Homo sapiens: one gene and its partners. The protein of the gene in region 2 interacts with the protein of the main gene of each other region in a pairwise test. Each region holds a gene or a part of one and is shown on either strand. Other genes may lie near its edges. The genes, in order: NEBL, SPAG5, CHCHD3 and ZMAT2.

The links.
Region 1: the proteins of SPAG5 (region 2) and NEBL interact in binary tests that used the Homo sapiens proteins (3 or more experiments, as listed by UniProt).
Region 3: the proteins of SPAG5 (region 2) and CHCHD3 interact in binary tests that used the Homo sapiens proteins (3 or more experiments, as listed by UniProt).
Region 4: the proteins of SPAG5 (region 2) and ZMAT2 interact in binary tests that used the Homo sapiens proteins (3 or more experiments, as listed by UniProt).

What each region holds. Positions count from the first base shown.
Region 1 is NC_000010.11:20,894,296-20,901,643, reverse strand, and holds the start of NEBL (nebulette), read left to right. Parts: upstream 1-4,332; 5' UTR 4,333-4,438; coding exon 4,439-4,519; intron 4,520-4,614; coding exon 4,615-4,686; intron 4,687-7,348. UniProt on the Homo sapiens protein: Binds to actin and plays an important role in the assembly of the Z-disk. May functionally link sarcomeric actin to the desmin intermediate filaments in the heart muscle sarcomeres.
Region 2 is NC_000017.11:28,589,026-28,596,047, reverse strand, and holds part of SPAG5 (sperm-associated antigen 5), read left to right. Parts: intron 1-2,981; coding exon 2,982-4,066; intron 4,067-4,175; coding exon 4,176-4,350; intron 4,351-7,022. UniProt on the Homo sapiens protein: Essential component of the mitotic spindle required for normal chromosome segregation and progression into anaphase. Required for chromosome alignment, normal timing of sister chromatid segregation, and maintenance of spindle pole architecture.
Region 3 is NC_000007.14:133,072,085-133,079,106, reverse strand, and holds part of CHCHD3 (MICOS complex subunit MIC19), read left to right. Parts: intron 1-7,022. UniProt on the Homo sapiens protein: Component of the MICOS complex, a large protein complex of the mitochondrial inner membrane that plays crucial roles in the maintenance of crista junctions, inner membrane architecture, and formation of contact sites to the outer membrane.
Region 4 is NC_000005.10:140,695,458-140,703,457, forward strand, and holds the start of ZMAT2 (zinc finger matrin-type protein 2), read left to right. Parts: upstream 1-4,989; 5' UTR 4,990-5,003; coding exon 5,004-5,021; intron 5,022-5,361; coding exon 5,362-5,455; intron 5,456-6,548; coding exon 6,549-6,672; intron 6,673-8,000. Other genes in the region: HARS2 (histidine--tRNA ligase, mitochondrial isoform 4 precursor), read left to right, coding at 51-176, 281-388, 646-744, 1,064-1,157, 1,486-1,613, 1,707-1,949, 2,112-2,228, 2,475-2,621 and 1 more. UniProt on the Homo sapiens protein: Involved in pre-mRNA splicing as a component of the spliceosome.

The DNA of each region.
Region 1 (7,348 bases), on a different chromosome or scaffold from region 2:
AAGAAATGTTGAATTCATTTTTAAAGTTAAAAGAAAAGCAGTTTATCTCTGTACTTTTTTCCCCCCACTCAGAACTGAATTTGGATCTGTTTTAATTGTTTATTATAAATTTTTATTTTTAAATCATGTATCACCATGTTGAGGAAAAGTACATGTTCTATCATTATGAAAAAAAGGAGAAAAAAGTGAAATAAGTGTGAAACAGTCAAAAACCAAGAAAGTCTTGTCATAGGCGACCTCAAGGAAGGTGAAGACAGTTGTGCACTGCACGACTCCAGATGGTGGCACAGATACGTTCCCTTGGCCACGGCTGTGTCTCTGAGACTTGAATTACCCACCTGACAGTTGCTAAGGAAATACATTTGCTTACGTGTAAACATCAAGCTATCAAAAGATCAGAAGACTTCTGAATTATAAATAAGCAAGTGAGCTCTTATCTTTAAGCTGTCTAGTTGCAGAAGGCCCTTCTTGACTTTAAAAGGATATTAATGGCACAGAGAATGAGAAGACCTTTTCATGCCAAATGTTTTTCACATCACTGTGTACCTTTATTGGTGGTTGAAAAAAAGCTTGTGTTTGTGAGGGGCTCCACTATTTTTAAGGTGCTTTTTCTTTTTATTTTTTTTAAGAGGGAGTCTCGCTCTGTCACCCAGGCTGGAGTGCAGTGGCGCGATCTTGGCTCACTGCAACCTCCGCCTCCCGGGTCAAGTGATTCTCCTGCCTCGGCCTCCTGAGTAGCTGAGATTACAGGTGTGTGCCACCATGCCCGGCTAATTTTTTTCTTTTTTCTTTTTTTTTCGGGATGGAGTCTCACTCTGTCACCTAGGCTGGAGTGCAGTGGCAGGATCTTGGCTCACTGCAACCTACGCCTCCCAAGTTCAAGCGATTCTTCTGTCTCAGCCTCCCTAGTAGCTGGGATTACAGGCGTAATCCCATCTACTGCCATCACACTCGGCTAATTTTTTTTTTTTTTTTGTATTTTAGTAGAGATGGGGTTTCACCATGTTGCCTAGGCTGGTCTCGAACTCCTGAGCTCAAGCAATCCACCTGCCTTGGCCTCCCGAAGTGCTAGGATTACAGGCGTGAACCACCGCACCCAGCCCATGCCCGGCTAATTTTTCTATTTTTACTAGAGACGGGGTTTGACCATGTTGGTCAGGCTGGTCTCGAACTCCTGACCTTGTGATCTGCCTGCCTCAGCCTCCCAAAGTGCTGGGATTACAGGCGTGTGCCACTGCGCACCCAGCCAGTGCTTTCTTTTTATTAACTTCTGTCAACTCAGTTTTTCTGTTTAACTATGAAGAATTAGAGGTAGTGAGGGGTTGAATAATTTGCCCTAGAGGACATGGCAGAGCCAGACCTGGACTTTGAGAGTTTAGCCATAAGTGATGTCTCTTGGTCTCATTCTGTATCAAGGCATGCGTAGAGTACTAAAGTAGAAAAGTAAACAACATAAAAGAAGTGCCCAATAAGTAAAAGCTATGAGCAGCTACAGAGATTTTGCCTTTTGGAGCAACCCAAGGTGAAAATATCTATTAAAATACATTAAGCTTGGTTTTTGGAAAAGTCGATAGGGGATTTTGAAACATGATAGCTGTCCATGAGGAACACTTTCTTCATATTCTCCATGTCATATTTTAGAGCTACTGACAAGAAAACTTTGCTGTGATGAAGTGCAGGGCTTAACACTTTTTTAGAGAAAACTTTGCATGAATTTTATATTATAGGTGAGAGGAAAAAAGATGTATTCAATCAAAAGTAATGGTGTCTCTAGCTTGCCAAACGATCCATTAAAGACTTCATCCAGCAAGTGTTGAGTGATGAGTATTTTATTTCCAATTCTATCTTAGTATGAAGAATATTTTATTCACCATTCTATCTCTAACACCAAGCACAGTGCCTGGCATAACAACATTTATTTGTTGAACAAATGAACACAGGTCTCTAGTTAGGTTCTGATCCTAGTGCTTCATTGAATGGCTTTGTAAATGAGACACATAATTTTTCATAGCCTTCATTTTGTCATCTGTGAAAGAGAGGGCTTTAGGTGTATTGATTTCTTAAGGATCCCTTTGGCTTGAAATTCTGATTCTAGAATCTCAAATGGAAAATTTGTGTTCACATTGCACGTGGTGTTTGGTTTTTGTTTTCAAAAGTTTGTGCATTAAATCTCAACAGCTTATTTTCTTGCAGCACAGTGAAGAGTCCCTAAGAACATATTACGTGATGGGAAATGAGAAATAACTGCACTGCAAGCCTGATGAAGGTAATTCACCTTGGGGAATAGGTGTCACCCTGAGTAACACCAGTACTGTCTCCTCAAATATGAGCCAAAAGGTGTGTCTCAGGCAGTTTTGGCAAGATTTTCTCCCTACACTCCTAGAAATTTGCAAGACAAGTTTACAGAAATTACTCCTCCCTATTTCCAAATAAAGATAATGTAATAGATCTATAGAATATTAGAATAGTCTTCTGGCCAGCAGAGGACTTGAGGGAAATAATTGGAATGCACACATTCTTTCCTTTTACGGAACAAATAAAATATACAAGGAATGTCCTTGTGGAATCCACTACACTGGGCCAGCATGATATGGCTGTAATCTTAGAGTTGTGGTTTCCAAGTTCAGCATGCTTGAGGCAATTTCTTTTTGGTATTTTGTTGGTGAACAGGATATGTGATACCATTAATTTAGCCTGTATCAAAAACTAGTTCAAGACCAACAGCTCCTTCTAGAACACAACATTTTAGGAGAATAGAGCAATGTTTCCCTAAGCAGTCGGTCATATTTCACAGAGGAGTGTTAGTTTTCTGGGGTAGTGGGTATGATTAAAAAAAAGATAGGTAGATAGGTAGGTAGGTAGATTAGATTAAATTGGATTAGATTTGATGAGATAAACAGGTTTGTGTTCAGGGGAACACGAGGTTAAGCAAGCCTAAGCAGGTTTTTTGGTTGAAGGTCTTCTCAGAACTTCTAGTATGTCAATATGCCTTGTAGATCTCTAAGTGGCAGGGACAGAGACTGGGGTACAGATTTCCCAAACATATTTGTTTAAGAAACCTGCTTTTTTCCCCCAGAATCTTTTGTGGAACTTTTGCCTCATGGAACACAATTTCAGAAATAATTTATACGTGATGACTGTGTAGAATGTTTTTCTTGTCAGGATTTTCAGTTTAGGTAAGGCCAAGGCATTTTTTTTTTACAGTACATTGAAAACTAGATATGATATCAAGAGAAAAAATTATGCTTGGCTACTTAGAATGACATACTATTTTTAATAAATTTGTATTTTGTATCATCAGTATTACTATTCAGTGTAGGGTATTTTTTATGCCCAATGCTAATGTGCTATGACTTGGTAAAATTAATTTACCCTAGGATTTACATAACCAGATTAATAAATTGTGAGTTGTAGGGAGTCTTGGAATTGCCTGAATTGACATTAAAATATTTGTTTTGAGAAATTTTTTTTTAACCTTGGTTTTACGTAACCAAGGACATACACTACATTATAAATATTGTGATGGTTTATTTTTCCAAACTTTTCTGAATGTGGGGTGCCCATTGAGTAATAATGCAAATCACCAATGACTTTGTAAAAATTGACATGATGAGTAGAACTGCAGAATTCAAAGATGATGATGATGATTTTTGAAACGATGTTTCCAGAATTGTTAAATTATGTATCAACATATGTTAACTGCAACTTCTCATGTTTAATGATGTTTACAATTAATACAATACCATACTCGCCAGTATAATACTAACAGTCATAATTAACTCAGAATAGATTCTTTGAAGTGGTTCAAAGGGCTTTTCATAATAAATAAGTAGCCTCTAATCAGCTAATATAAAGTGGGTATTTTTTAGGATGTGAGAAGTACTGGTATGTCTGATAAAACATATAATTTAGGTTGACAAAATGAGTTTGAATGATCCAGATTCACTACCCCAAGTCAGAAGGAAGTCTGACATTCCAGTGAAAGCTTTATTTAGACAGAGACAAGGAATCTTTGAGATAACAGGCTTTGGACTGTGCTATCTTGAGTGTTAGAGCTGAGTAGTTTTCCCAGAATCTCTAAGTCCTTTTTATGCTCTTTTATGAATGAATAGAATTAGTAAAAGATAAATAAATTTTTTCTTTTGGATTTCTTAACCAGTGGAAAAAATGTTGACTTTAAAAGTTCATAAAATCAAATTTTGCTTAAGAATATGTTATTTCCACTTGTGAGGCCAGCCTGGTAGACCTCTGGGATCCTTTTCTGTTCACTCACACACCACTGAGATAAGGAGTGAAGTGTGGGCTAAATAGGGCTGAGGCTTGGGCAAGGGCATTTCTGCCAGAGCACCAGAGACGTCAGCATCTCAAGGGCACTGTGGTATGGAAAAGGACGCCACATGAGTAAATTTTAAAAATATAAATATTTTAAAGGGTAAAAATGAGGGTCCCTGTATTTGAGGATATAAAAGATGAAACTGAAGAAGAAAAGATAGGGGAAGAAGAAAATGAAGAAGACCAGGTGAGTGAGAAAACACATACTCAGACCAGCGTTTGTTCCTCTAAATTGACAATGAGAAAAATGTTCTTTCTGTTCTTTTCTTTTTTTTCAAATAGGTCTTCTATAAGCCTGTTATTGAAGACTTAAGCATGGAATTGGCCAGAAAATGCACGGAACTCATTAGCGATGTAAGTGGCTGGAGTAATTTTTGTCTTATTTTGCATTGCACCTGTGGTATTATTATGTTATAGAGTCATAGAGCTGTGGGGGAAACCCTGAAATCACCTTTTAAAACACAGTCACTTTCCAGATCATGGAACAAAGTCCTGAAATTTTCAGTGATTTCCCCAAGGTCACCTATACAGAGAATTTCTGCTAGAGCAAGTCTCCTCATTCTTAATCCAGAATCCTGTCCCTTATGAGTTTTGCTGTCACGCTGGCATGAAATCATAAGGCATTGAATTGCAGTATTTATTCCATTTGAGAACCCCCAAAGATTTTAAAATGAATATAATGATGTAATTTGTCTTGGGAGGCCCTCTATCTAAATGAATAGTCATTTTTTTAACATTTTGGGGCCTTCTGAACAATCTAATGAATGGACTTGTCTTCCAGAACAGGAAAATGCATATATATATATATATATATATATATATATATATGCATATAATATTTATTTACAATTCAGGATTTGTTGATTACTGACCTGCTTGCTAAGAACCCTGATATTAGTGCAAGGATATTAGTGCAAGGGGTATTTTTGTTGTGACATTTTTTAGTAACTGGGATTGGTTGATATTACACTTTAAGGGAATCCCAGAATTATTGAATGATTGAACATATAATTTTATGTTAAATATGTAAGCTAGAATTCAAGAAGTACAAGGAAAAATGTTGCTCACCAGGGATGAGAATTTAGATGATCCTCATTAGCGGTTCTAAGAGGATTGCTGGTCCAGAGAAAGGGTAACTCCTGTAAAGTGAATATGTGCCTGTGTCTTCATTTAGAGAGATGAGCACAATACTGGTTGTTTCTGTTGTTGATAATAAGCAAAATGATCAGAATGTTTTGCACGTTTGTTTTCTAACGGAAGTCAGTCCTGGGCAGGAGGGTAGTGGTCTGGCACATCCTCCAAAGTCAACCTGCCTGGGTTGACTCCCCAGTAACCTTGGGAAGGTTATGGAACCTGGCTTGGCTCCATCCCTCAGCTGTAACATTTATAATAAGATTAAATAATGGTAATGCATATAAATGCTGAATAAACTATCTGGAACATTGTGAGTACTCCATAAATGTTAGCTGTTATTAACTACTCTGTCTGTTACTTCCTTTTACATCCATCCAATCACAATTTAGATATGACTGGCTCTTTCTGACAAACCAGAAGGCAAGCACAAAGGATGCTGGTGGAAATCATACCCTTTCCCATATACTTGACATGTGATGTAATTACCCTTTAAATTAAGTATTTCTTTGTGCTATTACTTAATAGTCATTAGCTATTGTATGTGAAAGTTCTCTGTAAATTGCAGTAATAATAAGTGACAATGACAACAACAACAACAATAACACTATTGGCAACAGTTAAGATTTAGTGACTATTGTGTGCCAGGGATTGCAGCTTGCGAGGTAGGCGCTAGGCTTTTTCTCATTTCTGAAGCGAGGAGATAGAGGCACAGAGAGGTTCAGTACCTTGCCTGGGTCACACAGTTAAGCAGAGGCAGTAATAGTTGAACACAGAGGCCTCCCTCTTTACACTGCCAAGTTATCTCTCCCTGTAGATTTCCATGAAATGTTGTTCTTCGCCTTATTATTATTATGTTACTATTATTAGTAGTAATGCTACCAACTAAAACCCTGAGTTCCTAACCTCTTCCAGCTTTGATATATTTTTATTGAAGTGCAATTATAGCTGAGCTAACTTGTGTTACATAAACCATCAGGACTAAAGTGGTAACTGTAGTTAGTAGGTGATTTGGTTGGAGTTGTTTTGGATAAGATTGTCTATCAGTGACTTTAAAACCAACATGTTGTGAGGGGTGGTGGCCTTTATCATTATGCAAAAGCTAAATCCATACATTTCACACCCACGTAGGTAAAATGAAACAGATAGGCATACTTTCTGTTTATTACAGATTTTTGTGGCATGGTAGAATGTACTACTTAAATTTAGGACATGATTATTCTGCCTTAATTTTTTTTTTTTTTTTTTTTTTTAGACAGAGTCTCGCTCTATCACCCAGGCTGGAGGGCAGTGGCACGATCTCGGCTCACTGCAAGCTCCGCCTCCTGGGTTCACGCCATTCTCCTGCCTCAGCCACCCGAGTAGCCGGGACCACAGGCGCCTGCCACTAAGCCCGGCTAATTTTTTTGTATTTTTTTTTTTTTTTTTTTAGTAGAGACGGGGTTTCACCGTGTTAGTTAGGATGGACTCGATCTCCAGACCTCGTGATCTGCCCGCCTCGGCCTCCCAAAGTGCTGGGATTACAGGCGTGAGCCACCATGCCCGGCCTATTCTGGCTTAATTTATATCTGTATACACATTCACATTTTGCTTCCGAATAGAATTCTATACTTGCTAAGATACTTATTTAATTTTTAGATTTTTTTCCTTTTTCTCTTCTTTTCTTTCTTCCTTTTTTTCCTTCCTTCCTTCTTCTTTTTTATTTTTCTGGACAGAGTCTCACTCTGTTGCCCAGGCTGGAGTTCTGTCATGTGACTGCAGCTCACTGCAGTCTCAATTTCCTGGGCTCAAGTGATTCTCCAGCCTTAGCCTTCCAAGTGGCTAGGACTACAGGTGTGTGCTACCATGCCTGGCTAATTTTCATTTTCTTTTTCGTAGAGATGGA
Region 2 (7,022 bases):
TGAGACGGAGTCTTGCTCTGTCACCCAGGCTGGAGTGCAGTGGTGCCATCTAGGGTCACTGCAACCTCCGCCTCCCAGGTTCATGCAATTCTCTTGCCTCAGCCTCCTGAGTAGCTGGGATTACAGGCATGTATCACTACGCCCAGGTAATTTTTGTATTTTTAGTAGAGACAGGGTTTCACCATGTTGGGGGTCAGGCTGGTCTTGAACTCCTGACCTCGTGATCTGCCTGCCTCAGCCTCCCAAAGTGCTGGGATTACGGGCGTGAGCCACCGCGCCCGGCCTAATTTTTTTTTTTTGAGACAGGATCTCACTCCTTCATCCAGGCTAGAGTGCAGTGGTGTGATCTCGGCTCACTGCAACCTCTGCTTCCCGGGTTCAAGCAATTCTCCTGCTTCAGCCTCCCCAGTAGCTGGGATTACAGGCGCGTGCCACCATGCCTGGCTAATTTTTTGTATTTTTAGTAGAGGCGGGGTTTCACCACATTGGCCAGGCTGGTCTCAAACTCTTGACCTCAAGTGATCCACCCTCCTTGGCCTCCCAAAGTGCTGGGATTACAGGCGTGGGCCACTGCACCTGGCCTGTTTTGTAAATTTTTGATTATTAATAGATATTAATTGTTTGAAGCATTTGAATATATAAATGTATAAGGAAGAAATATTTCTGGTATCTTAGATAAATGTCATATTTGACAGTTCTTTCATACATCTCTTTATGTGTGTCTATTTTGTATATATGCACACACACACACACACACTCATCTTTATATTGTCTTTTTTTTTTTTTTTTTGAGAAGGAGTCTTGTTGTATCGCCCAGATTGGAGTGCAGTGCCGCGATCTTGGCTCACTGCAACCTCTGCTTCCCAGATTCAAGCGATTCTCCTGCCTCAGCCTCCCGAGTAGCTGGGACTACAGGCACCCGCCACCATGCCCAGCTAATTTTTGTATTTTGAGTAGAGATGGGGTTTCACCATGTTGGCCCAGCTGCACTCGAACTCCTGACCTTGTGATCTGACCGCCTCAGCCTCCCAAAGTGCTGGGATTACAGGTGTAAGCCACCATGCCCTGTCTTTTTTATTTTTTTTTTTGAGACAGGGTCTTGCTCTGTTACCCAGGCTAGAGTGCAGTGGTGTGATCTTGGCTTATTGCAACCTTGAACTCCTGAGCTCTAGCAGTCCTCCCACCTCAGCCTCCTGAATAGCTGGGACTACAGGTGTGAGCCATCATACCTTTTAATAATTTCAAAATTAAAGTAAGATACATGAAATTACAATAAAACATAACAGCATAACAAATTACTATAAAGTACACATCCATGTAACTAATACCCAGGTCAGTAAGTAGGACAGTACCAGAATATCAGAAGCCCTTTTTAACCTAACCTTGGTTTTGTTTCATCCACTAATATAAATGAGAAATTTCATATGTTTGATTATTATTATTATTATTTTTTGAGACGGAGTCTCGCTCTGTTGCCCAGGCTGGAGTGCAGTGTCACGATCTTGGCTCACTGCAAGCTCCACCTCCCGGGTTCACGCCATTCTCCTGCCTCAGCCTCCCAAATAGCTGGGACTACAGGTGCCCGCCACCACAGCCAGCTAATTTTTTGTATTTTTAGTAGAGACGGGGTTTCATCGTGTTAGCCAGGATGGTCTCGATCTCCTGACCTCGTGATCCGCCCGCCTCAGCCTCCCAAAGTGCTGGGATTACAGGCGTGAGCCACTGCGCCCGGTCTGTTTGATTATTTTTTTAATAAATAATTGGACTTTCTATCTAAAGCTTCCAGAATAGTTTTTTCTTCATTGTAGCACAGAAATTTTATAATTATGTGTCTAGCATGTATCTTTTCTAGTCAGTCCTGCTTAGAAACTGGTGAGCCATTTTAATGTGCAAACTCAGGTCTTTCATTAGGGTAGTTTTCTTCTAATATTTGTTAATCAGCGCCTCATGTATATATGTTCTCTTCTGGAATTTCTTTTATTTAACTGTTAGGTATCCTGGGTTTATCTTCTAATTCTCTTAGCTTTTTCTTCAGATTTACATTTCTTTATATTTTTATCTTTGCTTTAAGATATTTCTTCCACTTGTCCAGGCCAGTAATTCTAGTTTCAACTCTAATAATTTACTCTTTCAATTCATTTTACTGACATTTTTTATTTAAAATAATATTTATTATTTCTAAAATGTCTTTGTGTGTGTATTTATGTTGTAGTTAAAGCTTAAGTACTCGTTTTTTTTGTTGTTGTTCAGATTATCATCTGTGTCTTCCAGCAGCTCTGTTTTGTTAGGGTCTACCTTTTTTATTTATTTATTTATTTTTTTTTGAGACAGGGTTTTGCTCTGTCACCCAGGCTGGAGTGCAGTGGCACGATTTTGGCTCACTGCAACCTCTGCCCCCTGAGCTTCAGTGATCCTCCCACCTCAGCTTCCTGAGTAGCTGGGACTACAGGCACACATCAGCACCACCATGCCCGGCTAATGTTTGTATTTTTAGTAGAGATGAGGTTTGAACTCAAGCGATCCACCTGCTTGTGGCCTCCCAAATGCTGAGATTACAGGCGTGAGCCACTGCGCCCAGCCGAGAGGGAGAAGAACTTGTACCAACTCTAGATTCTGACAGAGCTTAAGCCTTCACTCACACCCTATGGACCCCTCCTATCTGTTCATCTAGAAGTGCGTTAGAGTTCAGAATGGAGATGAGTGGGGTCACTTTCAAGCTACCATCTGCCCACGATATGGATCTATATTCTCAGCCTGTTTATAATGTAGGCTGGTTCACTTGGAAGGACCCAAAATGGCTTAGCAGCTTTTCTTTCCCTACTATTGGGTCTCTATATGAGCAACAAAGATTAGCCAAGTTCTTACCTAAGCAGAGGTAGTAAGAATTCTTTTCTTTTTTGAGTGCACTATCTTGCACCTGTAATTGTATGTCGGGAACTGAATTGACTGCCTTAGACAACTACTTTTGTTTCCTTTGGCAGGAAGGCAGCAACAACTCATCTCCAGTGGATTTTGTAAATAACAAGAGGACAGACTTATCTTCAGAACATTTCAGTCATTCCTCAAAGTGGCTAGAAACTTGTCAGCATGAATCAGATGAGCAGCCTCTAGATCCAATTCCCCAAATTAGCTCTACTCCTAAAACGTCTGAGGAAGCAGTAGACCCACTGGGCAATTATATGGTTAAAACCATCGTCCTTGTACCATCTCCACTGGGGCAGCAACAAGACATGATATTTGAGGCCCGTTTAGATACCATGGCAGAGACAAACAGCATATCTTTAAATGGACCTTTGAGAACAGACGATCTGGTGAGAGAGGAGGTGGCACCCTGCATGGGAGACAGGTTTTCAGAAGTTGCTGCTGTATCTGAGAAACCTATCTTTCAGGAATCTCCGTCCCATCTCTTAGAGGAGTCTCCACCAAATCCCTGTTCTGAACAACTACATTGCTCCAAGGAAAGCCTGAGCAGTAGAACTGAGGCTGTGCGTGAGGACTTAGTACCTTCTGAAAGTAACGCCTTCTTGCCTTCCTCTGTTCTCTGGCTTTCCCCTTCAACTGCCTTGGCAGCAGATTTCCGTGTCAATCATGTGGACCCAGAGGAGGAAATTGTAGAGCATGGAGCTATGGAGGAAAGAGAAATGAGGTTTCCCACACATCCTAAGGAGTCTGAAACAGAAGATCAAGCACTTGTCTCAAGTGTGGAAGATATTCTGTCCACATGCCTGACACCAAATCTAGTAGAAATGGAATCCCAAGAAGCTCCAGGCCCAGCAGTAGAAGATGTTGGTAGGATTCTTGGCTCTGATACAGAGTCTTGGATGTCCCCACTGGCCTGGCTGGAAAAAGGTGTAAATACCTCCGTCATGCTGGAAAATCTCCGCCAAAGCTTATCCCTTCCCTCGATGCTTCGGGATGCTGCAATTGGCACTACCCCTTTCTCTACTTGCTCGGTGGGGACTTGGTTTACTCCTTCAGCACCACAGGAAAAGAGTACAAACACATCCCAGACAGGCCTGGTTGGCACCAAGCACAGTACTTCTGAGACAGAGCAGCTCCTGTGTGGGTAAGCGCCCCTATGTCCTTGCACCTCGTGAGTTCCATTACCCTGGACCTTCCCCTCCCATCCCTTCCCCTCCTTTTCTTTTCGTCATGTTCTTCTCTTTCTGCTGCAGCCGGCCTCCAGATCTGACTGCCTTGTCTCGACATGACTTGGAAGATAACCTGCTGAGCTCTCTTGTCATTCTGGAGGTTCTCTCCCGCCAGCTTCGGGACTGGAAGAGCCAGCTGGCTGTCCCTCACCCAGAAACCCAGGACAGTAGCACACAGACTGACACATCTCACAGTGGGGTAAGAAGGTTCCTCTCAAAGCTTGAGGGATCCCAGTGGGGATCCTTGGAATTTAAGCTGAGAAGCTGCCAGAGGGCAAAGGGGACTCCTATCACAGGCTTATACTTAGAACATTTGCAAAAGCTGAGAATCTGGGCAGTCACAATGGCTGATGCCTGTAATCCCACTGCTTTGGGAGGCCAAGGTGGGAGGACTGCTTGAGGCCAGGCATTTGAAACCAGCTTGGGCAACACAGCGAGATCCCATCCCTACAAAAGATTTTTAAAAAATCAGCTGGATATGGTTTTGCATGCCTCACTACTCAGGAGGCTGAGGCAGGAGGATCATTTGAGCCCAGGAGGCTAAGGCTGCAGTGAGCTATGATCATGGGCAAGACAGTGAAACCCTGTCTCTTAAAACAAAAAAGCTGAGGATCTGGAAAATCCCCTTAAAGCTGTGGGTAGTCACTCTACCCCTGGGGTACATCAGAACTTTCCAAAGGAGTGCAAGCAAGGAAACTTTTAAAGGAATTGGTTTTTAGATCATCATCTTCCACAAGTATTCTTTTTCTTCGTTTTTTGCATTGGTAGACTATATTTAATATTTTAAGAAAAATTATGAATAAGCCTAAAACATTTTTTAAAATAATTTTTAATTTTTGTGGTTACAGAGTTAGGTAAATATATTCATGGAGTCCATGAGATGTTTTGATATAGGCATGTGATGGTCAATAATCACATCATGGAAAATGGAAAATGGAGTATCTGTATCTGTCCCCTCAAGCATTTATCCTTTGTGTTACAAGCAATCCAATTATACTTTTAGTTTTTTTTTTTTTTTTTTTTTTTTTGAGACGGAGTCTCACTCTGTCACCCAGGCTGGAGTGCAATGGCCTGGTCTCGGCTCACTGCAACCTCTGCCTCCCAGGTTCAAGCGATTCTCCTGCCTCAGCCTCCTGAGTAGCTGGGACTACAAGCGCATGCCACCCCACCCGGCTAATTTTTGTATTTTTAGTAGAGACAGGGTTTCACTATGTTGGCCAGGCTGGTCTCGAACTCCTGCCCTCATGATCCACCTGCCTCAGCCTCCCAAAGTGCTGGGATTACAGGCGTGAGCCACTGCGCCTGGCCCCTGTTGTTTATGTGAAGAAGATTTCTCAGTGTTTACATCTGTCAGAATGGAAAGGAGTCAGCTGGCATAGTGGCTCACCCCTGTAATCTCAGTACTTTGGGAGGGTGAGGTGGGAGGATCGCTTGAGCTCAGGAGTTCAAGACCAGCCTGAGAAGTATGGTGAAACCTCATCTCTACAAAAAAATACAAAAATTAGCTGGGTGTGGTGGTGTGTGCCTGTAGTCCCAGCTACTTGGAAGGCTGAGGTGGAGGATCACTTGAGGCTAGGAGTTCAAGGCTGCAGTGAACTGAGATCTTGACACTGCACTCCAGCCTGGGCAACAGAGCCAGACCCTGCCTCAAAAAACAGAGTCACGAATTGTTGCTGAACTATTTCTTATTGCTGGAATTATAGTAATCCACAGATATACGAACTAATAAGGGGAAGGAATCTCCATCGATTTCATTAATAGGTGATTCCCAATTAAATTTTGCCGAGCATGTTTATTTTATTAGAAATTATATTACAGTGACTAATATACAACTGATTAAAAGATTTCTCTATCCTAAAGAAAGCTTTTTCACTTTAAAGCCTTCCGGTCAAAGGAATTTAAAGGAAATTTTAATTTAAATTTAGATGAACTTTCATTGTTGTTGCAGAGATGATGGTTAATAACAGATTTTATTTTTATTTTTTGAGATAGTTTCTTGGTCTGTCACCCAGGCTAGAGTACCATGTTGCGATCAGGGCTCACTGAAGCCTCAGCTTCCTTGGCTCAGGTGATCCTCCCACCTCAGCCTCCTGGGTAGCTAGGACTGTAGGTGTATGCCACCACACCTACCTAATTTTTTTGTATTTTTAGTAGAGATGGGGTTTTGCTATGTTGGCCAGGCTGTTCTCAAACCCCTGGGCTCAAGTGATCTGCTAGCCTTTGCCTCCCAAAGCACTGGGATTACAGGTGTGAGCCACTGTGCCCAGCTAATAACATACTTTAAAGCATAAAAATATATTACATTAGGCTGAAATTCTGAGAAAAATAAAAAATATATGTTCAAAGAGAAAAAGGGATGACATAATAAAATTTCTGACTGCTAAGAAGAGCTTTTTCTTGTATTTTTAAAAGATAGCAACTAGGTATCTCATCATTTTGGTGTATGTAGTATTTATGCCACTGGATATATTTAAGAGTAATCTAATAATTTTATTTTAGGCTGGGCATGGTGGCTCATACCTGTAATCCCAACACTTTGGGAGGCCGAGGCGGGAGGATCACCTGAGGTCAGGAGTTCAAGACCAGCCTGGCCAACATGGCGAAACCCCGTCTTTACTAAAAATACAAAAATTAGCTGGGTGTGGTGGAGGGCACCTGTAATTCCAGCTACTTGGGAGGCTGAGGCATGAGAATCGCTTGAACCCGGGAGGCAGAGGTTGCAGTGAGCCAAGATCGCGCCACTGCACTCCAGCCTGGAGGATAGAGTAAGACTCTGTCTCAAAAAAAAAAAAAATTATTTTAAATTGTCAATATTGGTAATATGCTGGACATTACAGCCTTTGCAACAATTTAAACTTAAGGGTACTTAGT
Region 3 (7,022 bases), on a different chromosome or scaffold from region 2:
CATTCTGCCCTAATTGAGGGTGTTTTTTTGTCTAGGTCTGTTGTAGATGGTTTTTATTTCTTTATATTTTTCTTGGCTTTAAATAGTCACTTTGTTCCCTTCTGAGACATGGGGAAGGATAAGAAACCGCATTCTCAGTATGTCCATAAGCCATTGTTTTTAGCTTAGTTTGTTAGAACATGGTGCCGATGAGGCACCAAACTTCAGTTTTGAACTGCAGTTAGGTTAGTTCAGCTTGGCTGAAGAAAACGTTCCAACTTTGACCAGTTGTCTAGCATTTATGTCATTGGTTGTAAGAAATGAAAGTTTACCAAGCTTACTAATTCAACAGAGGCAGTCACTGCTGGAAAGCTAATTCTGTGTTCTGTTACACTGTTAAAGATAGTACAGACGGTCTCCTGTTAGGATGGTTCGACTTAGGATTTTTTGACAGTGGTGTGGAAGTGACAAGCGTTCAGTAAACTCAGCTTCTGGCATTACCTTCAGCAAAATCCGTTGTAAACCAAGGAGCATCTATAATTTCATCTTCCTTTATTTTTTTCATATAATGACTTGGGTTCATTCCCTTAATATAAATATGTTGGCAATTATGAGGTTTTTTTGAGTTGGAGTCTCCCTGTGTTGCCCAAGCTGGTCTCAACTCCTGGGCTCAAGCTATCCTCCTGCCCCAGCCTCTGGGACTACGGGCATGTGCCGCTCCACCAGGCTCAGTCATCATTTATCTTAATGTATAAAGAATAACATTTAGTGAACAACATAAGGCTTTTGGTAACTATGCTGAATATTTATTTATTTATTTGAGACGAGTCTTGCTCTGTCACCCAGGCTGGAGGGCAGTGGCATGATCTCAGCTTGCTGCAACCTCTGCCTCCCAGGTTCAAGTGATTCTCCTGCTTCAGCCTCCTGAGTAGCCAGGATTATAGGCCTGTGCCACCATGCCCTGCTAACTTTTTTGTATGTTTAGTAGAGGGGGGTTTCACCATGTTGGCCAGGCTGGTCTCAAACTCCTGACCTCAAGTGATCTACCCACCTCAGCCTCCCAAAGTGCTGGGATTACAGGTGTGAGCCTCCACACCTGGCTGAATTTATTAATAGATTGTGTTTCTCTATATTGTTGAGGTCCTTAATAGCAATGAAAGGACCTACTTCAAATTTTAAGTTTAAAATTTCTTCTCACCTACCAGGTGTTATTTTTCATGGTATTGTAGGGTCTTGTTTTTTCCCTTTATCCTTAGCAACTGATAGCTTTTCTTCCCTCTTCTGTAAAAGTAACCTATATTTTTACACCTGATTCCAACTTTGAATCTGAAACTACTCTTATGGATTGGATGAGAGGTCACTCTTTTGCCTTGCCCTCTTCTCAAGGCTAAAATAAATTCCTAGAGAGGAAAGACCAAGCATTTTCATTACTCATATTACATGTGGTTGATAGGATTTTTGTGAGCACCTGCTGTGCCTGCTTGGAAAGTGTGCTTACAACTCTATCTTTCGCAAGTTTATCTGAAACATCAAAGCTGTGAGTGAACTCTTCTGGAGCAAATGTCAACTTCAATGAGTATCATTTTCAAAGATATATTTATCATGCTTTCCAGACATAAACGAATGTCCGCAGCTGGGCTTTAAAGTTGCAAGCTGAAATTCACAGGAGCCAGTTATGGCAGTATGGATACTTAATATGGAACGTAACTCATGCTTTGGGAAGTGTTGGCAGTTGAGAGACCGTAAATGAAGAGATTACTTAATATGCGGTATTACTGAGGATTCTGAAGAGAGTATGTTATCAGAGACTACAAATTCGGTCAGCCCTTGGGAGTGTTGAGGAATGTTGTGCAAATTTAGTTAAGTAGTGGATGATTAGTTTCTTTCAGCTTTAGATTCTATGAAGTTTTTGGCTACCATCTTAAGTTATCTAGGATTTTATAAAGGTAGGGATAATGGTTTCTACTAATGACAAATGTAAAGAAACACAGACATAAGCTAAGCATTACATATTTCATATATATCTATCAACATATATATGGGTTCCCTCTCCCCCTTTCTCTTAACTAACTATTTGGGAGTAATTTCTCCCAAATAATAATGGCAGTTTTTGGAGCCTATGTCTTAAAAAGGTAATTGTGAAGCAAACTAATACTCACACAGAAAATGACCTATGCTAAGTGGAAGGAGGATCAAGAGAGAAAAAATGGGTCTGAGTTCTTGAATCAATTTGCTAGGACACATCTGGAAGAAGATAAGATAAACTAATGGAGGCAGGAGGCTGATTTATTTGTCTCATGTGGCTCATAACTTTACCTCTTAGAAGGGCCACTGAAGAATTCCTCTTTTTTTACTCTGTTACCTGGGAGTAGAAATACTTTCTCTTTGTCCAACTCACCCAGTCTCCTGTTTCTGAGAAAATTCTTTCTTTTGGATTGGTGGGTAGTGTTTCTGGCACGGATTTTGGATAAGACCAAACAAGGTGGGTAGGAAGAGATGAGTGGGAAGACTGTAGGAGATGACACATGGCCTTTCCCCCTCTGTGGAGCACATTGGTGTGGTGAGTACCACAAATTTAAACTTGGCAAGCTCTGTTTGCTTAAATTTGTCTTTAGGAGCAATAGAGAATAGGGTGGACAGTCAAGTTCAGTGGGCTGAATATCGGCAGACCTGCTTCTTTTGATTGCCCCTTATATTAGAATGGTGGCTCTTTTAGTTCATAGAGCACTGTGGATCTGTAAGCTGTGGATTCTGGCCAGAACCATGCAATAAGCAGACAGTTTTGCATACAGTTGAGTAATTGACCCACGGACTACTCAGTCTGTGGACCTCAGGGTGTAATTCCCAGTATCAATGTGTGTGGGGATTATTTCACTATTCTTTGCTACAAATAATTTCTGTAAATTGCCCTTGGTATTTGCCTTGATGCAGATTCCAGAGATGTCTGGAAAGCAAGTATAATAGGTATAGGTCATTGTACAGGAAAAGGCTTTGCTTAAACAAGTGCCCGGTTCAGGAAAAGATATGTTTCCTGAAGAAGATACTTTTTTTTTTTTTTTTTTTTTTTTTGAGATAGAATCTCATTCTCTTGCCCATGCTGGAGTGCAGTGGTGCGATCTCGGCTCATTGCAACCTCCACCTTCTGGGTTCAAGCGATTTTCCTACTTCAGCTTCCCAAGTAGCTGGGACTACAGGCACCCACCACCATACCTGGCTAATTTTTTATATTTTTAGTAGAGATGGGGTTTCACCGTGTTAGCCAGGATGGCCTTGATCTTCTGACCTCATGATCTGCCTGCCTTGGCCTCCCAAAGTGCTGGGATTATAGGCGTGAGCCACCACACCTGACCGCAAGATACTTCTTACACAGAGGCTGCCATCGCAGAAGCTTGTGTTGTACTATCGACCCCCATTTTGGGTCATTTTTTATCAGAAAGATGAGTTGTTCTGCAGCTACAGATTGCGTGTATAATCCTGGCCAGCATCTCTAAAGCTTGTCAGCTGCTTCACGAGTGAGTACCCCTGTTCACAGAGGAGATCAGGTGAGTGTGCAGGTCTGAACTTACTACTGCAATGGGAAGGTCAGCTCAGAGAGCATTAACTTTGGATACAGATGATAACACAACAAAACTATTACCTCATATCTACGTCGCTATGAGCAGACTGGGAATAGGGTAATAGTGCTTGGAGTTGGCAGAGGTGCAACAGTAGATGGCCATGGGTGCTGCTTTGGAAGGGCCTAAGGATACAGTTGTTGAATGATTGTAAGAACAAGAGAAAGGTGGAGTCTCAATAAGGCAGCCGTACAATATGTTTATCAAGCCTTCAATAGGTTTAGTATATACTCCTTTGGTGCATGCTTACAAGTTTACTGAACTATAACCAAACATCCCACTGGGAAATGTTTTGAATTGATGTGAGAATTTGACATTAAGTAGCAACTTGGGACATCAGAGAGGCCTCAAAAAGAAAAAAAAGTTAACAAGAAATTAGTGATTAGGTTGAAAGAGACATTCTACTCCTACTACCTAGAGAGCATAGATAGAGAAAAATAAGCACCTTCTATACCCATACCAGGACTTAGGCAGCTGCTGCTTGCAATAGCTGCAGGCCTGGTCCTCATGCACCTTACAGAGAACGAGTCAGTACAAGCTCAGACCCAGTTGATAAAAATGAACCAAAATGAATTAAAAAGTCCCTGTGGTTGGAGCTATATGGGTAATAGCTTTACCAAATATTTGTGTAGCCAATTGTAGTTTATGGTGCAAAACACTAAAATCCCTCCACAGAATCTCTGGGGTAAACATTATTTTCATTTTTTTCAGATGAAAATAGTAACTTTTCAGATGAAAGCTTATAGCTAACACTTGATTTTTGAGATTTATATATATTATATATCAGTTAAAATAGCTTTAAGATTCTAAAAATGTAAGCTTATTTTTTCCTCTTTAAGAGGAAGTGATATTTTTATTACATGCATGGGATTGAAGGGGTGTGTTATTAAAAGTAGAGCATTGGACTAGAGATTGGGGAATTACTGCTTCTGGTCTTGATGCTGCCAGTAACTGAATATTACTCAGGGTCTCTTTTTTTTCTCAAGTATAAATTGAGTCAGTCTTACGGGGATTTTTCTAGGATGTGTCTCAGTTTCTCAGTTTCTCAGATGGGTTTCAGCAACATTCCCAGTGGCTGTCAGTTGTTAGAAGGATGCAGCTGGCTCTGGCATTTTCAAATAGAAAGTCTTCTTGTCTTCCAAGAAGGGAGTCGTAGTTTTTTCCTTCAAAGAGCACACACAGCATTTGATCTGTAGCCTTTCCCTTTTCCATCTTATTTCCATTCTGGTTTGGGCCCTGAGATACAAGTAACAGTTGAGGTATAGACTATTTAGTTCACTGATGTATCACAGGGCCTTGATTAGTGCCTGGCCTGGGAGACATTTGTTGAATGAATGACTTAATATATAGGAGCTTGCAATCTAGTGGAAAGGCAGAAAGGTGAATGTGGAAAGGCTAATTCCTGTTCTTTCATTGAGACTGTATTGGAAGTTTGAGAAAGGAACAGCAGGCACAAGGAATGGTAGCTTTAGGTAGGCAGGGTTGGAATGGAGTGGACAACTGTTTTGGTCAGTGAAGGCTTGGATGTTTAGACTGCGTCTTGAAAGGTGACTCCCTCCCAATGGTACAGGAGAGAGGGCAATGTAGGCGTGTGTAAAGGCAAGGAGATGGACGTAGAACAGGATATGTAATATTAAGGAAAAAAACTGTAGAATTTGAGGTTGGAGAGTTAGGCCATCACCAAATGATGAAGTCTTGAATGCTGTACAAAGAATTTGAATTTTTCTGTAAACAGACAGTAGCTATTGAAGAATTTGAAGTAGGGAGTTACCATTATCACATTTGCATTTTAAGCGGATGGTACAGGAATTAGGGCAGGAGAAATGGGATGAGAGAAGAGAGGAATTCATTAAATATTTAGGGATTGATGAAGTCAGAGCTAAGAATGAGAGAGAAAGAAGAGTTAAGAACAAGCCCTATGTTTGAATTTAGGAAGCTGGGTGTTGGTGGTGTCATTAATGAGGTAAGGAAGGCAGGAGAAAGAGGAGATATGCGGCAAACGTGAGATCAATTTTGGACACTTTGGGTGTGAGGTGCTTCTGGTTTGCCAGAAGGAAGGTGTTCATTAGGCACTTCAGTGTGGAGACCGGGCTTCTGAGAGATAGGTCTTAAGCTCGAGTGAATGCATTTATTAATGGAATTTATTAGTTTATCAACAACAGTTAGAAATCAAGAGATTGGATGAGAGTGCCAGTACAAGGGCACATAGAATGAGAAGGGCCCTTCAGCATTGAAGTGCAGGCAGGAGAGGGGAAGCTGCAAAAGAGATAAAATGTGGCCAGAGTCCTAGGAGAACCAGGACAGCAGGATGTCAGAAAAGCCAAGGGAGGGCTTTCCAGAAGACGGGAGTGGCCAGAGGTGTTAGATGCTAAAGGGAAGCCATATAAATAAGGCATTTTATAAATATAAAATATTTATTTACATAAATATCAAAAGTTATTTATTTGGTCATTGGTGACTTCTACCAGAGAATGTTCACTGTTGCACTGAGGGTAAAAGCCAGAGAGTGGTGAGTTCAGGAAGTGGAAATGGGAAGGAGACCCTTGATACAGGAGGAGGATCACTCAGTTACTTGAAATGGAAATCCTGGGGTCTTCCTTGATGACTTCTGCTTTACTCCCACATCTACTCAGATACTGGGTAGTGATGCTGAGGGATGTTTGAGTGGGATCTTTTTTTTTTTTTTTTGAGACGGAGTCTCACTCTGTTGCCCAGGCTGTGGCGCGATCTCACTGCAAGCTCTGCCTCCCGGGTTCACGCCATTCTCCTGCCTCAGCCTCCTGAGTAGCTGGGACTACAGGCGCCCGCCACCACGCCCAGCTAATTTTTTGTATTTTTAGTAGAGATGGGGTTTCACCATGTTAGCCAGGATGGTCTCGATCTCCTGACCTCGTGATCCGCCCACCTCGGCCTCCTAAAGTGCAGGGATTACAGATGCGAGCCACCATGCCTGGCCTTGAGTGGGATCTTGAGACTCAGACTTTTTGGGTTTGAATCCTTCCTCTGCTACTGATAAAGTATCTGATCCAGGGCCAGTTATTTAATCCGGCTATGCTTCAGTTTTTTCACCTATAAAATAGAGATACAAAAGTATCTATCTCATAGGCCTGTGAAGGAGTAAATAAGTGAAGTGCCTAGCTTAGTGTAGCGCCTGGCACATAATAAGCACTCAGTGAATGTTAGTATTTTAAATCCTAAATACCTTTTAAGTGTGTTCTCCCCTGGATTACCATAATAGCTTTTTTTTTTTAAAGTTTATTAAAGTAAATTGTTGTAGAGTAATTTACATGCCATGAAATTCATCCATTTTAAGTTTACATTCCAACACTTTTTTTTTTTTTTTCTAGATAGGGTCTTGCTCTGTTGCCCAAGCTGGAGCACAGTGGCATGATCATGGCTCATTGCAGCCTTGACCTCCTGGGCTCAAGT
Region 4 (8,000 bases), on a different chromosome or scaffold from region 2:
GGCCTAATCTTTGGATGCAGTATCCCTCTTCCTTAACCCATTTATGTGAGGTTCCCTTTGCTCGTTATCTGGCCATGAATAAGGTGAAGAAGATGAAACGTTATCATGTTGGAAAGGTGTGGCGGCGAGAGAGCCCAACCATAGTCCAAGGCCGTTATAGGGAGTTCTGCCAGTGTGTAAGTGACCTGATGGGAGCAGCACAGTTTGATAGTTCTAGGGGCCACAACCTTGAAACTGGCTGGATAATGGATGTTTTTTCCCATCTTTTTCTTTGCTGTAGGATTTTGACATTGCTGGTCAGTTTGACCCTATGATCCCCGATGCAGAGTGTTTGAAGATCATGTGTGAAATCCTAAGTGGATTGCAGTTGGGAGACTTTCTCATTAAGGTGAGGCCAGGGCTGAGAACTGTGGGAGAAGTCTGGATTTGGCCTAATACTGTTTATGCAAGTCCCAAACTTGGGTGACTCCAACCCTTAAGCCTGCAACTGTAGGACTTTCCTAGTAAAGCTGTTGTATTTCCTATATGTCTGTACTCTTCCTGTGAAATTTCCATCCTTTTTGTGTGTCAGGAAAGTAGGTACTGCCATTGTTTTGAGTGGAAGGGCATTGACAAGCACTTGGGTCACTGACATTGAGTTCTCAGGTAAATGACCGGCGGATTGTGGATGGGATGTTTGCTGTCTGTGGTGTTCCTGAAAGCAAGTTCCGTGCCATCTGCTCCTCCATAGATAAACTAGACAAGGTAACAAAGAAGACATACTTCAGTAGACCCTATCTAGCTTCTGCCCTGCCCTCAAATCCATACCACTAGTGAAAAATAAGGAGATTGTGGCTGGAAGTGGGCTATTTTGGGGTGGAAGGTAAGGAGGCATACTCTGAAGGAAGATCTGAGTCATGCTATACAGTGGGGATTGTGACTGGATTTCTTAAGCTGTCTCTGACTTTGCTGAGTATACAGTTAGCTACTTGTGATGTATATACTGAATGGAAGTTGAGTTGTCCTTTTTCAGTTTGAGAAAGAAAGATCTTGGGGCTGGGCTAATGTTTGGGTGTTTATGCAGATGGCTTGGAAAGATGTGAGACATGAGATGGTGGTGAAGAAAGGCCTGGCTCCTGAGGTGGCTGATCGAATTGGGGACTATGTCCAGTGTCATGGTAAGAACCAGGGTTTTCAGAGCTGTGATAGAACCAGGCTGAAGGTGACATGTGCTCAAATTCTACCTCTGAAACAACTCTTTTCTGTAGATATGCTAAGCTCCAGGGCCTGTCCTGAATTTAATTTCTCTTTTACTTATTGTAACGACTTTGTGTCTTCAGATGGCAAAGCTAGAGGCAAAGGAGGAGGGTCTTGTCATGTGAGACTGGGATCTTTTTTTTTTTTTTTTTTTTTTAAAGAAAATGAGGAAGACTAGCTAGAGCACATTAGGGATAATTTTGAATGAAACACATGTGAGTGAACAGCAGAGACTTTATTTCTCTCCAGGTGGGGTATCCCTAGTAGAGCAAATGTTTCAGGATCCCAGACTATCCCAGAACAAGCAGGCCCTGGAGGGCCTGGGAGACCTAAAGCTGCTATTTGAATACCTGACTTTATTTGGAATTGCTGATAAGGTAAGCTGAATTGCAAATGGACCTCCTGCTGAGCTCTAGGGCTCTCAGGGTCCCGAGTCTAGTTTGGGACTGACTGTAATCTTGTCCCCACAGATCTCCTTTGACCTCAGCCTGGCTCGGGGCCTAGACTACTATACAGGAGTGATCTATGAAGCAGTGCTGCTGCAGACCCCAACTCAGGCTGGGGAGGAGCCCCTGAATGTGGGCAGTGTGGCTGCTGGTGGGCGCTATGATGGGCTGGTGGGCATGTTTGACCCCAAGGGCCACAAGGTGCCATGTGTGGGACTCAGCATTGGGGTTGAGCGAATCTTCTACATTGTGGAGCAGAGGATGAAGGTAGGTCCTAGATAGGTGTGAGGTGGGGCTGGAGACCTAAAAACCCTCCTGTTTCTGGAGGTGTAGTTGGAGTGGTTTTCTGATGATTCTTTTTGTCTTGATTTTTGGAATTGCTGGTGGAAAGGAGGTTTTTATTAGTTTTACTTTCTTCTCTCTTATTAGACCAAAGGTGAGAAGGTGCGGACTACAGAGACTCAAGTGTTTGTGGCCACACCACAGAAGAACTTTCTCCAAGAACGGTTGAAGCTTATTGCAGAGCTTTGGGATTCTGGAATCAAGGTATGGTGGAGCTGATATCTGAGCCATCTGGGTATGTGTGGAATTTAGGACCCAGGGCTATATCTATCTTATGTCTGGGGTGGAACTCAAAACCTTTTTAGTCTGCTAGCTACTACTGGCTACTAGATTGGCTTTTTAGGGTAGGCGGACTAGCCACTTATCTCTGGCTTTCTTGGATATCCATGTTCCTGAGGTTTGTTGCTGTGTTCACTTCTAAGTCCCTTACTCTGTCTTGATCCTTTTCAGGCAGAGATGCTATACAAGAACAACCCCAAACTATTAACCCAGCTGCACTATTGTGAGAGCACAGGCATTCCACTGGTGGTCATTATTGGTGAGCAAGAACTGAAAGAAGGGGTCATCAAGATCCGTTCAGTGGCCAGCAGAGAGGAGGTGAGTGGCGGCAGCAGAAATAGAAGGGACGAAGTATTTCTGCCTTTCCCAGATTCTGTAAGAAATATGCATCTTCTGGCTGAGAAATTATCTTCATGGTTAATAGTGGTAGAGATGAACAAACACTCACTCAAGATGACCATTGCTGCCTGTGAGTATTGACTGGGTGGCCAGAAGAAAGACAAATGAAATCCGAATGGGTATTTTGAGACTAATCAACATAATAGACATAGATCAGGTGTTTGAATCCCTTTCATCTTGAGGGTATACATTCTTCAGGTCAACCCACACTACTCCTTTCTGGTTGTATAAGTAATGGGAGAAGATGCAGAGTAAAACAAATCTGGAAAAACAGTGGCTAAGGAGTTAGTATCACTTTCTAGTTTATCACATGAGGATTCTCTTATGTTTCAGGTGGCCATTAAACGGGAAAATTTTGTGGCTGAAATTCAGAAGCGACTGTCTGAGTCTTGATCCTTGCCTGATTCCCATCTGCTGCTCTTTGTAGAAAAGGTTTCCTCTAGAACTGAATTCCTCTGGAATTGAGTGATGGACTTCACAACAACTAGCCAGGAAGGGTGACAAGTACCTTCTGCCTCCTCCATTCTTCCTGGGTGCAGAACTGTAGAAGACCCTGAGGACTCCTGGGCTAGTGTGAGCAGCTATTCTGCATGGGTGCAGATGGCTGGATGTGAAAGAGACATGCTCTAGCTGCAGAGGCAAATTTGAAGTGCCACGGAACGTTGTCAAGAGGTAGTGAGATTGTTGCTGTGAGCAAGGCTCTGGGAGAGTCACCTCAGGCTCAGGATTCTGAACCATTGAGATCAGAAACCAGATACTTAGCCTTCTACTGTAGCTACGGAACCAGATTCTGGTGAATTTGTCCACAATCAGCCATTGGCCTGTCTGGGGAGTTTTTGGAAGACAGCAAAGAGGGGCAATGGCTGCTTTCAGCTTTGAGGACAGATGCTATCCTAAGGGCATGGCAGTACCCATGTTGATTTGACATCTCTCTAGCCCATCCATTGCTTACAGTAGAAGAGTGGGGCTGTATGCTTGATAATCTTGAACATTGAACTTAATAGATGACTTGACAAGGTAGAGATCTGATATTTTGAGATTTTGGAGACCATTTCCTGTGCCAGAATCACTGCTCTATTCCATACCGTGCCATGGAGGCTGTTTTAGAAGTGGTTGGATAACATGTTAAATAAAATATTAAGTGTAGTAGTTTGGGTAATTTGTTATTGTTATCAAGGGCTTTGTTTGCATAGACCATAGAAAATGCTTGAGTGTACATTGGAGAATTCTGTGAGGTAGAAGTAACCTCCCTGGGATGATGCTTCTGTATTCAGTGATGAGCAGCCACAGTTTCTCCCTCTTTCCCTGTCTCCTCAAGAGGTAGTTTTTTTGTTTGTTTGTTTTTAGACGGAGTCTTGCTCTGTCACCCAGGCTAGAGTGCAGTGGCGTGATCTCGGCTCACTGCAACCTCCGCCTCTCAGGTTCAAGAGATTCTCCTGCTTCAGCCTCCCGAGTAGCCAGCTAATTTTTGTATTTTTAGTAGAGACAGGGTTTCACCATCTTGGCCAGGCTGGTCTCAAACTCCTGACCTCATAATCCACCCACCTCAGCCTCCCAAAGTGCTGGGATTACAGGCATGAGCCACTGTGCCCGGCCAAGAGGTAGTTTTGTTGCTAAAAATCAACATATAGTGAGCCGGTATGCCACAGTGCTTCACTCTAGAGTGTTGTTGATGACTGGCCTTTCCAAATCCAATTATGCTGATTAAATTATGTTCTACTATAAAGTTCCCCAGATGATGGAAAAATAAGTGAACCAAAGGGTGGTAGCATTGCTTCAAGGAAAAGAGCCCAAGTGCAAAACATGCTTTTTATATGTGCGTCGGGAAGGGTGCCTCTGTTGCAAACGTTTCAGTGTAGTTTAGGGTCATATCCCTAGTGCATGCAGGTGAATGAGAGGCATCTAGACCCCCTAATGGCGCTTCGGCCTTAAAAAAGGTTTAGAAATTCTTGGCAGTGGACGCAAAGTTGCTAGACTAGATCAGAGACCACTGTTTTGCGAACCTCAGTTTCCTTGTTTGTAAAATAGTTGAACTAAATCTTGACCCTTTAATGCTTGTTTTGAAATCCAAGGCAAAAAACAATTGCAAGCGCCCTTACTTCCGTGTTGCTTCATACTCCTCTTGCGCCTGCGCTGTCTCCTTGGAGCAGAGGCGGGGCCAACAAGCCTGTTTTAGAAACCCTCCAGTCCTTAGCTCGTTTAGAACACAAGACTCCAAGCTTATTGGAGGGCTATCTTGCCTTACGGCTCCAAGCCGCTTTTTACGGCGTTTTTCAGCTCGCCATTCACTTCGCTGTGAAGATGGCGTCGGGCAGCGGGGTAGGTGTTGTGTCTGAGGAGGAGGTTTTGCGGGGTGGGGAATGGTTTTTCAGACCTGAATAGAGACAAACTCCTGCACCCGACTGGCTTCCCGATATCTCCTCGAGATCCCAGGGTTCAGGTTCAAGAACTCCCCAGTAATAGGCCTTGGCAGAGGGTCAGTAGAATCGCGGAGGTTTCTCGGGTTGGGGTCTTGAGGCTACCTCAGTCTTCTCGTACAGTCCAAAGAGGCTTTGCTTTCAAAACGTCCTGTAGACACCTGGACCGCGAGGGCGCGGTTCCCTGCTTCTCTAGGGGCCCAGACACGGCGACGGATCTTGACGCTTTTTCCTCCCCACAGACAAAAAACTTGGACTTTCGCCGAAAGTGGGACAAAGATGAATATGAGAAACTCGCCGAGAAGAGGCTCACGGAAGAGAGAGAAAAGAAAGATGGTGGGTGCTAACTACATCAAGGGCTAAGGGTATCACAGAGGCGATGCGATGATGGAGAGCGGGTGGGAGTTGAAGTGCGCTGCCTTCCCACGCGGTGTAAGCTCTGGCAGAGTGCTGCTTCCCTGGGCCTAGGTTTCTGCATTTACAAAATGAGAGCGAGGAGGTGGGATGAAGTAAGTAGTTTTGAGATGCTCTTCAGCTCTATTTCACTCTGCTTCCTTGCCCACCCTTTGCTTGGCTCGTTTAATGCTTTCCTGAAGTACAGAGAAGATAACGGCATCCTTAGTAGTGACAGAGAAGTTAAGTAGAGTATTTTGCTGCTGTGCATTACCGCTATCAGTGACCCCCCTCTTTCCCTTGAAATTTCTTAAGGGAGAGAACATTCCTGGCCCAATCAAGACCCTCCCATATAGTCTGAGAAAAGCCGGGGAACTTTGCAGGATCTGTGATTGTTTCAGCTAGAGCTTAGTAGTGCTGTTTCTCTGTGCCTTGTACATCAGGGAGTTGGTGCTTCTCTCCTGTTTAAGAGATTGCATAAAGAAATGTTTTATTTTGTCATCTGTTTCAAACGTGTACATTCTTCTTTCCCTTTACCTCCAGGCCACCTTGCACTCACTAACTCTTTCATTTTTTATGTAACATGTAAAATAAATAGTGCTTGACATGTAACAGGCATTTCCTAGATGTTGGTCCCCTTTTATAAATTTGCCCAGCTCTCAGAAGGTTCCTTTCCGTTATGCCTAGGGTATCTGCCTGAAAGCATTCTTGAATGTCCTTGCTCCCGTTTTGAAAAAGTTGCTTCTAGTAATTCTTCAGAAATTCTCCCCCACAATTCAGTTAATCAATGAATATAAAACATACTGTTTTTAGATTTGCTGGCTTTAAAGTGGAGAAAAGCTGTAGAGTTGAGGATTGCTTATGATTTCTTCCTGTGTTGAGATTCTCCCCAGCTGCTACTTTAAGTGTCTGTTGTGTCCTTTCAGGAATGATTTTGAAATGAGTAAGACCTGAATTTTGGATTTCATGCATTTTTTTTCCTTTCTGGTTGAGGAACTATAATATTGAAGGGACTTCCTTCCCCATTATGTTTCAGGAAAACCAGTGCAGCCTGTCAAGCGAGAGCTTTTACGGCATAGGGACTACAAGGTGGACTTGGAATCCAAGCTTGGGAAGACAATTGTCATTACCAAGACAACCCCTCAATCTGAGATGGGAGGGTGAGTTGCTTATCATTTTTCCTCTGCAGCCAAGAATGCATCTAATAAGCCACCTATTTTGGTTTTAGGAAGTGTTAAGGAAGGTCCTTGGCCCCAGGATTACGTCCTTCTTGCCTGTAATTCTATCTTTATATTTGTTTTTCTGTGTCTCCCAAGGTCTCAAGTTGACATGATAGTGTCTCTAGGAGTGGTCACTCAGTGGGTTTCTTCATGTTATTAGCATTGGCTGGGCACAGTGGCTCACGCCTGTATTCCCAGCACTTTGGGAGGCCAAGGCAGGAGGATTGCTTGAGCCCAGGAATTCAAGACCAGCCTGGGTAACACAGTGAGACCCTGTCTCAATTAAAAAAACCAAAACAAACAAAAATCATACTATGAGCACTACAGCTACTACTCAATATAGTTTTTAAATTTTTTATTGCCATTGTACTTGTTATCAATTCTGATTTACTATTAATATTTTAAAAGGGATTATTTGATCTGTCAGAAGAAGAAATGAAGGAAAGGACTACTGAGGAGATTTCTAGGAGAGAAATTAGGTGGAGCTAGAATAGAGCCTAGGAGTTGTTAATGGTGAAGAAGAGGGGTTTGAGGTTCCAGACTAGCTGCAAAGGCTGTAGTTGTTATGGATGCCTGATTGTACACCTTCTTCCAAGACTATAACCTATAGGAAGAAGGGTCCTACAAGAGCTTGTCACCCTTTTGCCCCCCACTGCTTCTCTGTCCAGTTAGGTTTTCTGGCAGGAGAGCAACACAGATAGCAATGAGTGACACTTCTCTGAGCTGCTTAGTAAACCCACTGTTGTCCATTCCTGTCTGTATTAGTTATCTATTGTTATGTAAATTAACAAATTAACCTAAAGCTTAGCAGCATAAACTACACCACTCACAGTTTCTTTGGGTAAGGAATCTGGGAGTGGCTTACCTAGGTGGTTCTGGCTCAGGGTCTTCATGAAGCTGCAATCAAGGAGTTGGCAAGGTAGGTCTGCATTCATATGAATCTTAAGTGGGGCTGGAAGATCTGCTTCCAAGCTCTCTCACATGCCTGTGGTTTGGAAGCCTAAGTTCTTTGCCCCATAGACCTTTCTTTTTTCTTTTTCTTTTTTCTTTTCTTTTTTTTTTTTTTTCTGAGACAGAGTTTCACTCTTCTTGCCCAGGATGAAATGCAATGGTATGATCTCGGCTCACCACAGCCTCGCCTCCTGGGTTCAAGCGATTCTCCTGCCTCAGCCTCCCAAGTAGCTGGGATTACAGGCATGCACCACCTGATTTTTTTGTATTTTTAGTAGAGACGGGGTTTCTCCGTGTTGGTCAGGCTAGTCTCGAAC